Linked DNA regions of Homo sapiens: all the other regions are reported to be linked to region 3. The links are microRNA targets in miRTarBase. Many come from high-throughput screens and were not tested one by one. Region 3 holds a microRNA gene; each other region holds the end of a gene's coding sequence.

Region 1 (4,202 bases), not on the chromosome of region 3:
GAAATATAGAGCTGGTTTCTGGTTTCTTATTTGTGTTAAAGTTTAAATGACAGACTCAAAAGGCATAATTTTTTCAACAGAATCTTTTCCCAAGTTATATCACACATTAAAAATAAAAATAGTCATAATTCCTGATAATATTTTTACTAGTTTCAGGTTTTTGTAAGGAGATATTTATTTTTCCCAAGTTATATCACACATTAAAAATAAAAATAGTCATAATTCCTGATAATATTTTTACTAGTTTCAGGTTTTTGTAGGGAGATATTTATTTACATATTCTTCCAATTCTCTCATCAACAATTGAAAACCTAGATACGACTTGCTTTTTTGACTTGACAGAGTTGTATATATTTCTAAGGAAACGTAAGTGTATCTTTGTCTAATTACCATATGTAATGAACTTGCAACAAATCTAGTTAAAATCCAAAAGATGATCTATCAGAGCTATTGTGTTACTTCTAATGGGTATTATTGAAATAGATGTAGAAGGCATAATTGCTTTATAACTGCTTTGTGTACTGTCTTACAATATTCCATGTAATTTAAGACTACTGTTTGTTCTCTTTCTAGTGATAAAAAGTTGATTGCAGAAGGACCTGGGGAAACAGTATTGGTTGCAGAAGAAGAGGCTGCTCGAGTGGCCCTTAGAAAACTTTATGGATTCACAGAAAATAGACGGCCGTGGAACTATTCCAAGCCCAAAGAAACCTTGAGAGCAGAAAAGAGCATCACTGCCAGCTAGCCGCCATGGATGCAGCAGCCTGAAACTTGAGAGCGAAAGTGAGATAAATGTCAAAGGTGTTTCAAGCCAGACATTTTCACAATTGTGAAGAAATAGATGTTTTGTTTCTGTTTTTTACTGTGTTCCCAAAATTAAATAAGTGTTAACCAAGTCACAGTGTTTTTGGTTTTGTTTTTCTGAAATCTTGGTTTGATCAAATCTTTTTTTTTTTCTCTTGAGATGGAGTCTTACTCTGTCGCCCAGGCTGGACTGCAGTGGTGCGATCTCGGCTCACTGCAACCTCCACCTCACAGGTTCAAGCGATTCTCGTGGCTCAGCCTCCCTAGTAGCTGGGATTACAGGCACACACCACCATACCTGGCTAATTTTTGTATTTTTGGTAGACATGGGGTTTCACCAAGTTGGCTAGGCTAGTCTTGAACTCCTGACCTCAGGTGATCCACCCGCCTTGGCCTCCCAAAGTGCTGGGATTACAGGTGTGAGCCACTATACCCGACCAGATCAAATCTTTTTTTGACATTTTTGCAAAAAAATTTTCCTAATGTTCTTGATTTAATTGTATAGAATTTGTATAATTAGGTGTATTTTATTTGCGTCTAGCTTTGAGGTATCATAATTTATGTATCTTATGTGAATTTTTTGCTGTAATACCAATAAAGTTTTTTTTCTCCACATGTTAACATTGCATTTTAATTTGATATACCCAGTAATGGCAGGAGGTTGATGAACTTCGCTTCTGTAATACAATTTTAACTAAAATAGTAATGTTAAAACTCTTTGGGAAATGCATAGTACAGATTATAAGTAGGCAGCTATTTACATGATCCCTAAATTCTAAGTTTAAAATTATGTATACTTCTAGTATGTTTCTTATTCAATTTCTATTATAAATAGCAGGAAAAGGCAAATTTATGCTTTTCAGAAATTGCCTTTTCTAAGAAGTTGAAACTCAAAAACAGCTTAAAATGTTAATGGTGAAGGGAAAATAAAGCCAGTATTAGTTCAATTTAGTATTCTAGTCATAATAATAGTATGTACCAAGCAGTGTTGTAAGTATTGGAACACATTTAATTCAGTAGAGAGGTTTTGGTTTTCTAATCCTTTGTGGTCAGTTCAATAATCCCCTAACTGCAAATTCCTTTTGATTTATCATTTGTTAAAAACTTTGGCAACAGTAATTTTTAGTTTGAGTCTTCCATTAGTCACTCCCAGGGGTTAACAAGAATAGCAGGACCTACGAGTTGAGAATAGAAAAGAGGTAAAATGTTAAAACCAACAGTACATTTGCCATGAATTTATTTATTTATTAGACAGAGTCTCGCTCTGTTGCCCAAGCTGGAGTGCAGTGGCGCGATCTCAGCTCACTGCAACTTTCGCCTCCTGAGTTCAAGCGATTCTCCTGCCTCAGCCTTCCGAGTAGCTGGGACTATAGGTGCGTGCTACCACACCCAGCTAATTTTTTTTGTATTTTAGTAGAGACGGGGTTTCACCATGTTGGCCAGGGCGGTCTCAATCTCCTGACCTCGTGATCCATCCACCTCGGCCTCCCAAAGTGCTGGGATTACAGGCGTGAGCCACTGTGCCCGGCCTGACATTTTTTTATAAAGAAAGATGAAGGAACTTTGAAATGCCTTTCCTGAGCCTGGCTAGGAAAGTGGAACTTGAGTTATCTTACAGGGTTTATAGCTCCCAAAGGTAAAGCAGAGACTTTTTGGAGGGGAAAATTTGAAAAATTAACTAGTTGACTGAATTGGCAGGTTAAAAGTGAGTTAAAGTTGACCCTCGAACAACGTGGGTTCGAATTGTGCAGATCAGTATATATATGCAGATTTTCTTCTGCTTCTGCCAACGTGAGACAGCAAGACCATCCCCCTTTTCCTCCTCCTCTTTAGCCTACTCAGCGTGAAGACAAGGATGAAGACCTTTTTGATCATCCGTGTCCACTTAATGAATAGTAAATATATTTTCTTTGATTTCTTTAATATTTTTAGCTTTGTTGTAAGAATAAGGTTTATAATCTATATAATAAAATATGTGTTAATTGATTATTTATTAATATATCATCAGTAAGGCTTCCAGTCAGCCATAGGTTATTAGGAGTTAAGTTTTTGGGAAGTTTAAAGTTAATATACAGATTTACTGCTACATGAGGGGTCAACATCCCTAATCCCTGCATTGTTCAAGGGTCAACTATATTTTACCTTTTTTTCAGAGTTAACTTCAACTCCTAGTAATGGAACACAAGGATAGAGGACCAAAACCAGTGGTAAAATGCCATTTATATGTGTTACTCACAAGTAAACATGATTTGATAAGCATCTCATTGGCACTGTAGGAGAAAAGAGATTATATGACAAACTTTTCTGGAAAGCAAAAGACATGTCTTCTGACCACTTATCCAGCATCTGTGAGATGGCAGAATCTAGCTGTGGTATGATTCTAATTTTTTTTAAGGTAAACATTAAGAAAGTCTAGGGAATTCATTTGCAAACCCAGTAATCCTTTTCTTCCCCCTCCCCGCCCCCCCCCCCCCCCCGCTAAATAGTGCTGATTGTGCGTTCCCAAATTTCTCCTGCTCAGGGGAGTTTGCAGGACCTTACCCTGCAAGCTTAGAGGGGAACTATCCTTTTAGGTTTTCAAACTTTTAAACTTTGAATGCTTCCAAATTTACATGTGGGACAAGTCTGGCTCTAGTTCATAAAACTACTTTGCAAGTAGAGATCCATATGCCTTATGTAGAATGTAATTTCAACATATTTCTAAGTAAAGCCTTCTTTGAACTTAAATTGTTGTACTTTTTAAAAGCACCCTCTAAAATAGGGTAGAAATGTAGAAAATTTAGAAAAATTGACATACATTTTCAATTGCATATCAAATATAGCTTGAAATTTGGAACCAGTCTCTGAGTAGCTATTTGTCCTATGAGCCTAACTGCATAAGTATGATATGTGGGTAGAAGGAACATGTGGGTACAAGAATGTCATCAAATGGTGCATGTGACCAAGAGCATTCAGTGACCATGTGAAGGACTAGCTCTTTGACTAATGCCTCGTCCATGTTGAGAAGACAGTCATAAGACTGGAAGCACTGACATTTGAATTTAGGTTCACACCAGAGGAAGACATTAGTCATTTACTTTGAAATTCTGACTTTTTCCACCTTTTCCCACTCTCCAGTTCCCTGTGCCCAAAGTATAATTGTACCAAAAAAATCCTCTAGCCAAAAATGTAACATTAATGTCTACAGACTTAATTACATAACCCCTATTCTTTTAAATTCATACTCTTTATTATATGCATATGTATAATGAGGAATATTTTTCTCAAAGTGTTGTATGTGGTCACAAGAAAGTAAACTGGAAACTAACACTAAACTCCAAGTAAGAATGGAACAAATTGGAGCTTTTTGTGTTCAGAGCTGTACTGATTTTGGCCACAAGATGGTGCTGTAATCCTAT
Region 2 (4,163 bases), not on the chromosome of region 3:
AGCCAGGCGTGGTGGCAGGCGCCTGTAGTCCCAGCTACTTGGGAGACTGAGACAGGAGAATTGCTTGAATCCGAGAGGCAGAGGCTGCAGTGAGCCAAGATAGCGCTGCTGCACTCCAGCCTGGGCGAGAGAGCGAGACTTCCTCTCAAAAAAAAAGAAAATTAAAAGCCTAAGTGAATGGAAAGATCTCATGTTCACGGATTGGAATACTTAATATTGTTAAAATGGTAATGCTACTCAGTTGATTTATAGATCCCACACAATTCTTATCAAAATCTCAGCTGTCTTTGTTGTTGTTGCAGAAATTAGCAAGCTGGTCCTAAAAATAATATGGAAATGTAAAGAACCCAGAATACCTCAGATAATCTTGAAAAAGAAAAGCAAACCTGGAAGACTTACACTTTTCAATTTCAAAACTTAAAACTACAAAAGTGGCCAGGTGCGGTGGCTCACACCTGTAATCCCAGCACTTTGAGAGGCCGAGGCAGACAGATCACTTGAGGTCAGGAGTTCAGGACCAGCGTGGCCAACATGGTGAAACCCCATCTCTACTAAAAATACAAAAATTAGCCAGGTGTGGTGGCACACGCCTGTAATCCCAGCTGCTCAGGAGGCTGAGGCAGGAGAATTGCTGGAACCCAGGAGAGAGGTTGCAGTGAGCTGAGATTGCACCACTGCCCTCCAGCCTGGGCGACAGAGCAAGACTCTCTCCAAAAAAAAAAAAAAAAAAAAGCCGTACAAAATTATAATAATCAAGATATTGTGGTACTGGCATCAGGATAGACATACAGATCAATGGACTAGAATTGACCATCTAGAAATAAACTGTTAGATTTACTGTATAGTCAATTTATTTTGACAAGAGTGCCAAGTCGATTCAATGAGGAAAAGAATATTCTTTTTAATAAATGGTGCTAGAGGCTGGGTGCAGTGGCTCACGCCTGTAATCCTAGCACTTTGGGAGGCTGAGGTGGGCCGATTTCTTGAGGCCAGGAGTTTGAGACCAGCCTAGCCAACATGGTGAAACCCTGTACTAAGAATACAAAATAATTAGCCAGGTGTGATGGCACGTGCCTGTAATCCCATCTATTCGGGAAGCTGAGGCAGGAGAATTGCTTGAACCTCGGAGTTGGAGGTTGCAGTGAGCCGAGATTTCACCACTGCATATCAGCCTGGGTGACAGAGTGAGACTCTGTCTCAAAAATAAATAAATAAATAAGTCGTGCTAGAGCACTCTTTATTGGTGTTCTGCTTCTGAGATTTTTTTTTTAATTTTTAGAGACAGGGTCTCATTCTGTCACCCAAGCTGGAGTGTGGCGACGCCATCATAGCTCACTACAGCCTCAAACTCCTGGGCTCAAGCGATCCTCTTGCCTCAGCCACTTGAGTAGCTGAGATTACAGGTGTGCACTGCCACGTCCAGCTAATTTTAAAAATTTTTTGTAGAGACGGGGTCTATGTTGCCCAGGCTGGTCTTGAACTCCTGGCCTCAAGTGATCCTCCCGTCTCAGCCTCCCCAAGTGCTGGGATTATACAGCTGTGAGCCACTGCGTCCAGCCCTAAGATGATTCATACCTATCGGGGAAAACAGTGCCACTGGAGAGAACAGGCTGGCCTCTGCACTCTGGATTGGTGACAGGAGTTATCCAGGCCTGTCTGAAGGCAATAGCAGGTGTGTCCATGGGACTTCTTCCAGGACGGGTGGGTCTTGAGTTACAGACCTGAAAAGGTGCATAGGGTTCTGGGAACAGAGTGGGTCACGGGTGAGCCCAGGCCTTGGGGTGAGGCATACCTGGCTCTGTTTGGCTGAGTAGCTTCAGGCAGATCCCTTTTCCTTTCTGAGCCTCTGCTGCTGACCAGGGTGACGCTATTCCATGCTGGTCCACAGTGAGGAGACGGGAGGGAATGGTGGCCAGCACACTTGGCATGGGGCCTGGCCTGTGGCGTGGGCCCACCCCTGGCTGCTTTTGGTTTTCCTTGACCGGCCGCCCTGCCCCGGGCAGACAGATGCAGCTGGGGCCTTCCGGTGGCTGGAACCCTCAGAGCGACGGCTGCAGGTGCTGCAGGAGGGCGTCTTGTGCAGGACCTTGGCGGGGTGCTGGCCCCTGAGGCTCCTTGCCACCCCGGGTAGCCTGGCGGAGCTGCCTGTCACCCATCCTGCCGGAGTGAGGTGAGGGTGATGGGGGGGATGCCAGTCCAGGTGGTGGGCACTGTGGCAGGGCTGCCAGTCAGGCCCTCTTCTCTTCCCACTCCTCCAGGCCTCCCATCCCTGGACCGCCTTATGTGGCCTCCCCTGACCTCTGGTCCCACTGGGAAGACTCAGCCCTGCCCCCACCAAGCCTGAGGCCTGTGCAGCCCACCTGGGAGGGCTCCTCAGAGGCAGGCCTGGACTGGGCTGGGGCCAGCTTCTCCCCAGGGACTCCGATGTGGGCGGCCTTGGATGAGCAGATGCTGCAGGAGGGCATCCAGGCCTCGCTTCTTGACGGGCCAGCCCAGGAACCCCAGAGCGCACCATGGCTGTCCAAGTCCTCTGTCTCCTCTCTGCGGTAAGGTGGGGTGGGCAGAGGTGGGGTCCCCTGGTATAGGGGCCGGGGTGGCCCTGACACTCCCCACTTCTCCCCCCACCCCCAACAGGCTGCAGCAGCTGGAGCGCATGGGCTTCCCTACGGAGCAGGCGGTGGTGGCACTGGCAGCCACAGGCCGTGTGGAGGGTGCCGTGTCACTGTTGGTTGGAGGACAAGTGGGCACTGAGACCCTGGTGACCCATGGAAAGGGTGGGCCTGCCCACTCCGAGGGTCCTGGGCCTCCCTAGCCCAGGCAGAGAGTGGGGCACAGGCAGGCCCTTGGGTGCTAAGGGCTGGGCTGCATGTGGGTAGCCCGAGCTCCTACTCTGTCTAAAGAGGGCCACAGTGGGGAGCAGGGGCACCTCTGGAGGCAGGAGAGGCCCCCCAGCATGCTGCCCTAGTACGTGTTTAGAATAAAAACCAGTTTGTTTTTCAACCTGGACCTCCTTGGAGGCAGCAGTTGTGTTTGACTCTTCTGTGTTGGCATCAGGGGGATGAATGAATGAGTGAGCACCAAATGAATGACCAGTTGTGGGAGAGCTGTTCCCTGATGTCCAGAGACACAGGCTTCCTGGCCCTGCACCTTGCAGCCTATACCTCCAGGAGGCTCTGTCCTCCAGCACAGAGCATTCTCCACCGCCCATTTCTAGCCCTCTCCGTCGTAGCCTCATTCCCAGCTGCCCCCATCTAAGCACACACTGAGACCAAGCTGCGGGGAATCAGGTAGGGGCCTTTATTGGCCAGCACACATCTACCTCCTGGCATCTGTCACAAGCATTTGCAGGAGTAGGCGGCCCCTTCCTCTCCATGTCCCCATCCCCAACCTGAGATGCGGGAGGGCCTGGGGGCTCAGAGGGAAGAACTGAGGCAAGAAGCCCCCGGTGATCCAGTCAGAGGATTGGGCAGCCTGACCTCGGGGTGGGGAGCCCAGCACTGGACAACAAGGAGGGAGGGGCACAGGAGGGCTCCCCGAGGTTTGGTCGGGGAGGGGGAGGAAGACTGCCCCCTGCCCTGTCATCTCTGCATGTGCCGAGCCCCAGCTCCTGACTCCCTCAGTGCCTTTGGGCCTGGATGCTCAGACAGCAGATGAGACGAAGCCTTGTACCTCTATCCCTCCTTGAAGGCCTGCCTCCCCCCACTTCACAGAGGGAAACTGAGGCCCAAGCCTCTCCTCTCAGCCCTTGCTCAGCCTCAGACATGTGCATGGTGCCAGGACTGAGACCTGCTTACCCCTAAGGCCTAGATGGCAGAAGGGACCCTGAGGACATTAATAAATATGGACGGGCGGTCCCTGGAGGCAGCTGGCCGAGTCCAGGTAGGAGGGGAAGCCTGGCCTGGTCTGCCTCAGGGGCCGCCACCACCCTCAGCCTCTCTCGTCCCGGCTCCTGGGGGCCACGATCCGGTAGTTGGTTGCATGTCCGCCCCTCTTGCCCCGAAGGAGGCTGGGGGTGCCTGTGCCGGCAGGGCCCGCCCCAGACCCCAGCTCTGGTTCTGCCGGAGGGAAGAAGGAGAGAGGCCACATTAGAGGGGTTCATGTGAGGTGCCCACCTCCCCTTGGCCCTCTAGGGGGTGGCAGAACCGGGCACGCTCTGCCAGGTA
Region 3 (4,202 bases):
AGACATTTTCAAAGACACATTAAAACACATATAGGTTGGTGCATACTTTTTTTTGGCTCAAGTTACAATATGGCTAGGCACAGCCTGTTGGATTCTGTCTTTATTTAATTTTCTTTTTCTTTTTCTTTTTCATTTGAGATGGAGGACTCTCTATGTTGCCCAGGGTGGTCTTGAACTCCTGGGCTCAAGCAATCCTCCTGCCTCAGCCTCCTGAGTAGCTGGGATTATAGGCATGTACCACCACATCTGGCTTAAATTTTGATATTTTGGCTTATGATAGATTTTTGGCATTAATTTTAGGCTTTTCAAGTATTGCAATAAGATATTAGTTTTTTCTTTTCTTTTTTTTTTTTTTTGAGACAGTCTCACTCTGCTACCCAGGCTGGAGTGTAGTGATGTGATCTCGGCTCACTGCAACCTCCACCTCCCTGGTTCAAGCGATTCTCTTGCCTCAGCCTCCCAAGTAGCTGGCATTACAAGTGTGTGGCACTATACCCAGCTAATTTTTGTACTTCCAGTAGAGATGGGGTTTTGCCATGTTGGGCAGGCTGGTCTCAAACCCCTGACCTCAAGTAATTCACCCTCCTCTGCCTCCCAAAATGCTGGGATTACAGGCGTGAGCCACTGTGCCCGGCCTCTTTTTCTTTTCTTTTTTTCTTTTTTTTTTTTTGAGACAGGGTCTCTCTCTCTGTCACCCAGGCAGGAGTGCAGTGGTATAATCAGCTCACTGCAGCCTTAGCCCCCTGGGCTCAAGTAATTCTCCCACTTCAGCCTCCCAGGTAGCTAGGACTACAGGCACACACTACCACACCTGGCTAATTTTATTATTTGTAGAGACAGGGTCTCGCTATGGTTTTGTTGTTTGTTTGTTTGTTTGTCATTGCTTTTGTTTTGAGACAGAGTCTCGCTGTGTCACCCAGGCTGGAGTGCAGTGGTGTGATCTTGGCTCACTGCAACTTCTGCCTCCCAGGTTCAAGGGATTCTCCTGCTTCAGCCTCCCAAGTAGCTGGGATTACAGGCACCTGCCACCACGCCTGGCTCATTTTGCGTTTTTAGTGGAGATGGGGTTTCACCATGTTGGCCAGGCTGGTTTCAAACTTTTGACCTCAAGTGATCCACCCACCTCAGCCTCCCAAAGTGCTGGGATTACAGGCATGAGCCACCGTGCCCAGCCTCATTATTTTTACTGTGTGGCTTGGGCTTCAGTCTCCTCACCTGTAAGATGGGACAGTAGCAGCAGTATGTACTCTGAGGGGCTGAGAGAGGGGCCGGGCTGAGGCAGAGTGCCTATGAGCCCTGTCCCTCTGTGTCCCCTGCCACAGGCCTATGAACGCTCTGAGAGCTTGGAGGTGGCCTTCGTTACTCAGCTGGTGAAGAAGTTGCTTATTATCATCTCACGCCCTGCGAGGCTGCTGGAGTGCCTGGTGAGGGGGCTGGGCATGGGTAGGGGTGGGTTGGTAGACCCTGGGAGCCTGTGGTGAGCCCACTCCTGCCCTGCCTCAGGAATTCAACCCCGAGGAGTTCTACCACCTGCTGGAGGCGGCCGAAGGACACGCCAAGGAGGGCCACCTTGTGAAGACGGACATCCCCCGCTACATCATCCGCCAGCTGGGCCTCACCCGTGACCCCTTTCCAGGTGCCGGCTGGTGGGCGCAGGGGGACTGGGGGTGAGCAGGCCCAGAACCCAGCTCGTGCTCACTCTCAGTCCCTCCCTAGATGTGGTGCATCTGGAGGAACAGGACAGTGGTGGTTCCAACACCCCTGAGCAAGACGATCTCTCTGAGGTAAGGCTGGGTGGCTAAGCGGTCAGTACCCTGGTTCCTGGGAGGGCAGGGTGGGGCTCATCTCCGGCTTCTTTGCCCTCAGGCTTTGTGGATCTCTTGGTCCTACACTCTGAGCCTCAGTTTTCCCATCCATAAAATGGGATTAATAATAGCTCTTCCAGAGCCTGGCATGCTGGCTCATGCCTGTAATCCCAGCACTTTGGGAGGCCAAGGTGGGCAGATCACCTGAGGTCGGGAGTTCGAGACCAGCCTAACCAACATGGAGAAACCCCGTTTCTACTTAAAAAAAAAAAAAATGCAAAAATTAGCCAAGCCTGGTGGCACATGCCTCTAATCCCAGCTACTTGTGAGGCTGAGGCAGAAGAATCACTTGAATCCAGGAGGCAGAGATTGCTGTGAACTGAGATTACACCACTGCACTCCAGCCTGGGCAACAAGAGCGAAACTGTCTCAAAAAATAAAATAAAATAAAATAAAATAATTGCTCTTCCCCTGTGACCTCTTTGTCATGTTAAAATCCATGAAACATAAAATTTAATTTACTTTTTTAACCATTTTATTTTATTTTTATTTATTTATTTATTTATTTTTTGAGATGGAGTTTTGCTCTTGTTGCCCAGGCTGGAGTGCAATGGCACTATCTCAGCTCACCACAACCTCCATCTCCTGGGTTCAAGCAATTCTCCTGCCTCAGCCTCCCGAGTAGCTGGGATTACAGGCATGTAACACCACACCCGGCTAATTTTGTATTTTTAGTAGAGACTAAAATTTCTCCATGTTGGTCAGGCTGGTTGCAAACTCCCAATCTCAGTTGATCTGCCCATCTCGGCCTCCCAAAGTGCTGGGATTACAGGCATGAGCCACCGCGCCCGGCCTTTTTAACCATTTTAAAATGAACAATTCGGGGCCGGGTGCAGTGGCTTAGGCCTGTAATCCCAGCACTTTGGGAGGCCAAGGCAGGAGGATTGTTTGTGCTAAGGCATTTGAGACCAGCCTGGGCAGCATAAAAAATCAGCTGGGCGTGGTGGTGCACCCCTGTAGTCCCAGCTACTCGGGAGGCTGAGGTGGGAGGATCCTATGAGCCCAGGAAGTCAAGGCTTCAGTAAGCCATGATCACACCACTGCACTCCAGCCTGGGCAACAGGGTGAGACCCTGTCTTGAAAAATGAAATTAAAAATAATAAAGAATAGGCCAGGTGCAATGGCTTATGCATGTAATCCTAGTACTTTGGGAGGCCAAGATGGGTGGATCACTTGAGGTCAGGAATTCGAAACCAGCCTGGCCAACATGGTGAAACCCCATTTCCACTAAAAATACAAAAAAATTAGTTGGGCGTGGTGGCACATGCCTGTAATCCCAGCTACTTGGAAGGCTGAGGCAGGAGAATTGCTTGAACCCGGGAGGTGGAGGTTGGTGTGAGCCAAGATCCCACCACTGCACTCCAGCCTGGGCAACAGAGCGAGACTCTGTCTCAAAATAATAATAATAATAATAATAATAATAATAATAATAATGATTAATAGTAATAAATAAACAATTCTGCAGCATTTAGTAATTCACCATGCTGTACAGCCATTAGATCTATGTAGTTGCAGAACTTTTTTATCACCCCCAAAGGGAAACCTCACACCCATTACACACTCCCTCCTCATTCCTCCCTCCCTGCAGTCCCTGGCAACCACTAATCTATTTTCTCTCTCTGTGGAATTGCTTTTTCTGGATATTTCTTTTTTTTTTTTTTTTTGAGACAGAATTTCACTCTTGTTGCCCAGGCTGGAGTGCAATGGCGTGATCTCGGCTCACTGCAACCTCCGCCTCCCAGGTTCAAGCAATTCTCCTCCCTCAGCCTCCTGAGTAGCTGGGATTATAGGCATGCGCCACCACACCTGGCTAATTTTGTATTTTTAGTAAAGACAGGGTTTCACCATGTTGGTCAGGCTGGTCTCGAACTCCTGACCTCAGGTGATCTGCCTGCCTTGGCCTCCCAAAGTGCTGCGATTACAGGCGTGAGCCACATGCCTGGCCTTTTTCTGGATATTTCCTATAAATGGGATCGTATGCTCTGTGGCCTCTTATGACTGGCTTATTTCACTTAACATAACGTTTCTGAGGTTTATCCATGTTGTAGCTTGTGTCACTGCTTCATTCATTTTTATAGCCGAGTAATATTCCATTGAATGGTAGATGCATTCATCCACTGGTGAACATTGGGTTGTCCATCTTTCATCTGTTGTAAATAGTGCTCTTATGAATGTGGGTGTACAAATATTTGGCTGGACAACTGCTTTGAGTTATTTAGGATATACGTCTAGAGGTGGAATTTCTTGGTCATATGGTAGCTCTATGTTTAACTTATAGAGGAATCCTGCATGGGCTTTCGAGCAAGCTAACTGGCTGTATGTGTTAATGGCAGCTCA

What was found. The annotated mature microRNA hsa-miR-6794-5p reads CAGGGGGACUGGGGGUGAGC and lies in region 3 at 1,654-1,673, shown strand. An mRNA with a match to its seed (bases 2 to 7 or 8) in the 3' UTR can be bound and repressed. Matches are read on the target gene's strand: a 7mer-m8 pairs with bases 2 to 8, a 7mer-A1 pairs with bases 2 to 7 and ends in A, and an 8mer does both.
Region 1: miRTarBase lists MRPL44 as a target of hsa-miR-6794-5p. The part of its 3' UTR that is shown has no 7-base or 8-base seed match.
Region 2: miRTarBase lists EMID1 as a target of hsa-miR-6794-5p. Seed matches in the 3' UTR shown: 7mer-m8 at 3,551-3,557.

What each region holds. Positions count from the first base shown.
Region 1 is chr2:223,966,290-223,970,491 of GRCh38, forward strand. It overlaps MRPL44 (mitochondrial ribosomal protein L44), which reads left to right. Exons shown (of 4, transcript NM_022915.5): 4 at 574-1,425. The coding sequence ends at 745. Among named protein-coding and RNA genes, the nearest start is that of MRPL44, 11 kb to the left of the region's middle.
Region 2 is chr22:29,258,709-29,262,871 of GRCh38, reverse strand. EMID1 (EMI domain containing 1) reads right to left here. Exons shown (of 15, transcript NM_133455.4): 15 at 3,275-4,055. The coding sequence ends at 3,928. It overlaps RHBDD3 (rhomboid domain containing 3), which reads left to right. Exons shown (of 7, transcript NM_012265.3): 5 at 2,008-2,170; 6 at 2,259-2,546; 7 at 2,635-3,000. The coding sequence ends at 2,812. Among named protein-coding and RNA genes, the nearest start is that of RHBDD3, 7.2 kb to the left of the region's middle. RefSeq lists enhancers at 1,568-2,421, 2,422-3,276.
Region 3 is chr19:12,850,612-12,854,813 of GRCh38, forward strand. It overlaps MIR6794 (microRNA 6794), which reads left to right and starts at 1,649; the gene lies at 1,649-1,716. It overlaps MAST1 (microtubule associated serine/threonine kinase 1), which reads left to right. Exons shown (of 26, transcript NM_014975.3): 8 at 1,323-1,424; 9 at 1,504-1,636; 10 at 1,717-1,784. RefSeq lists an enhancer at 1,578-2,078.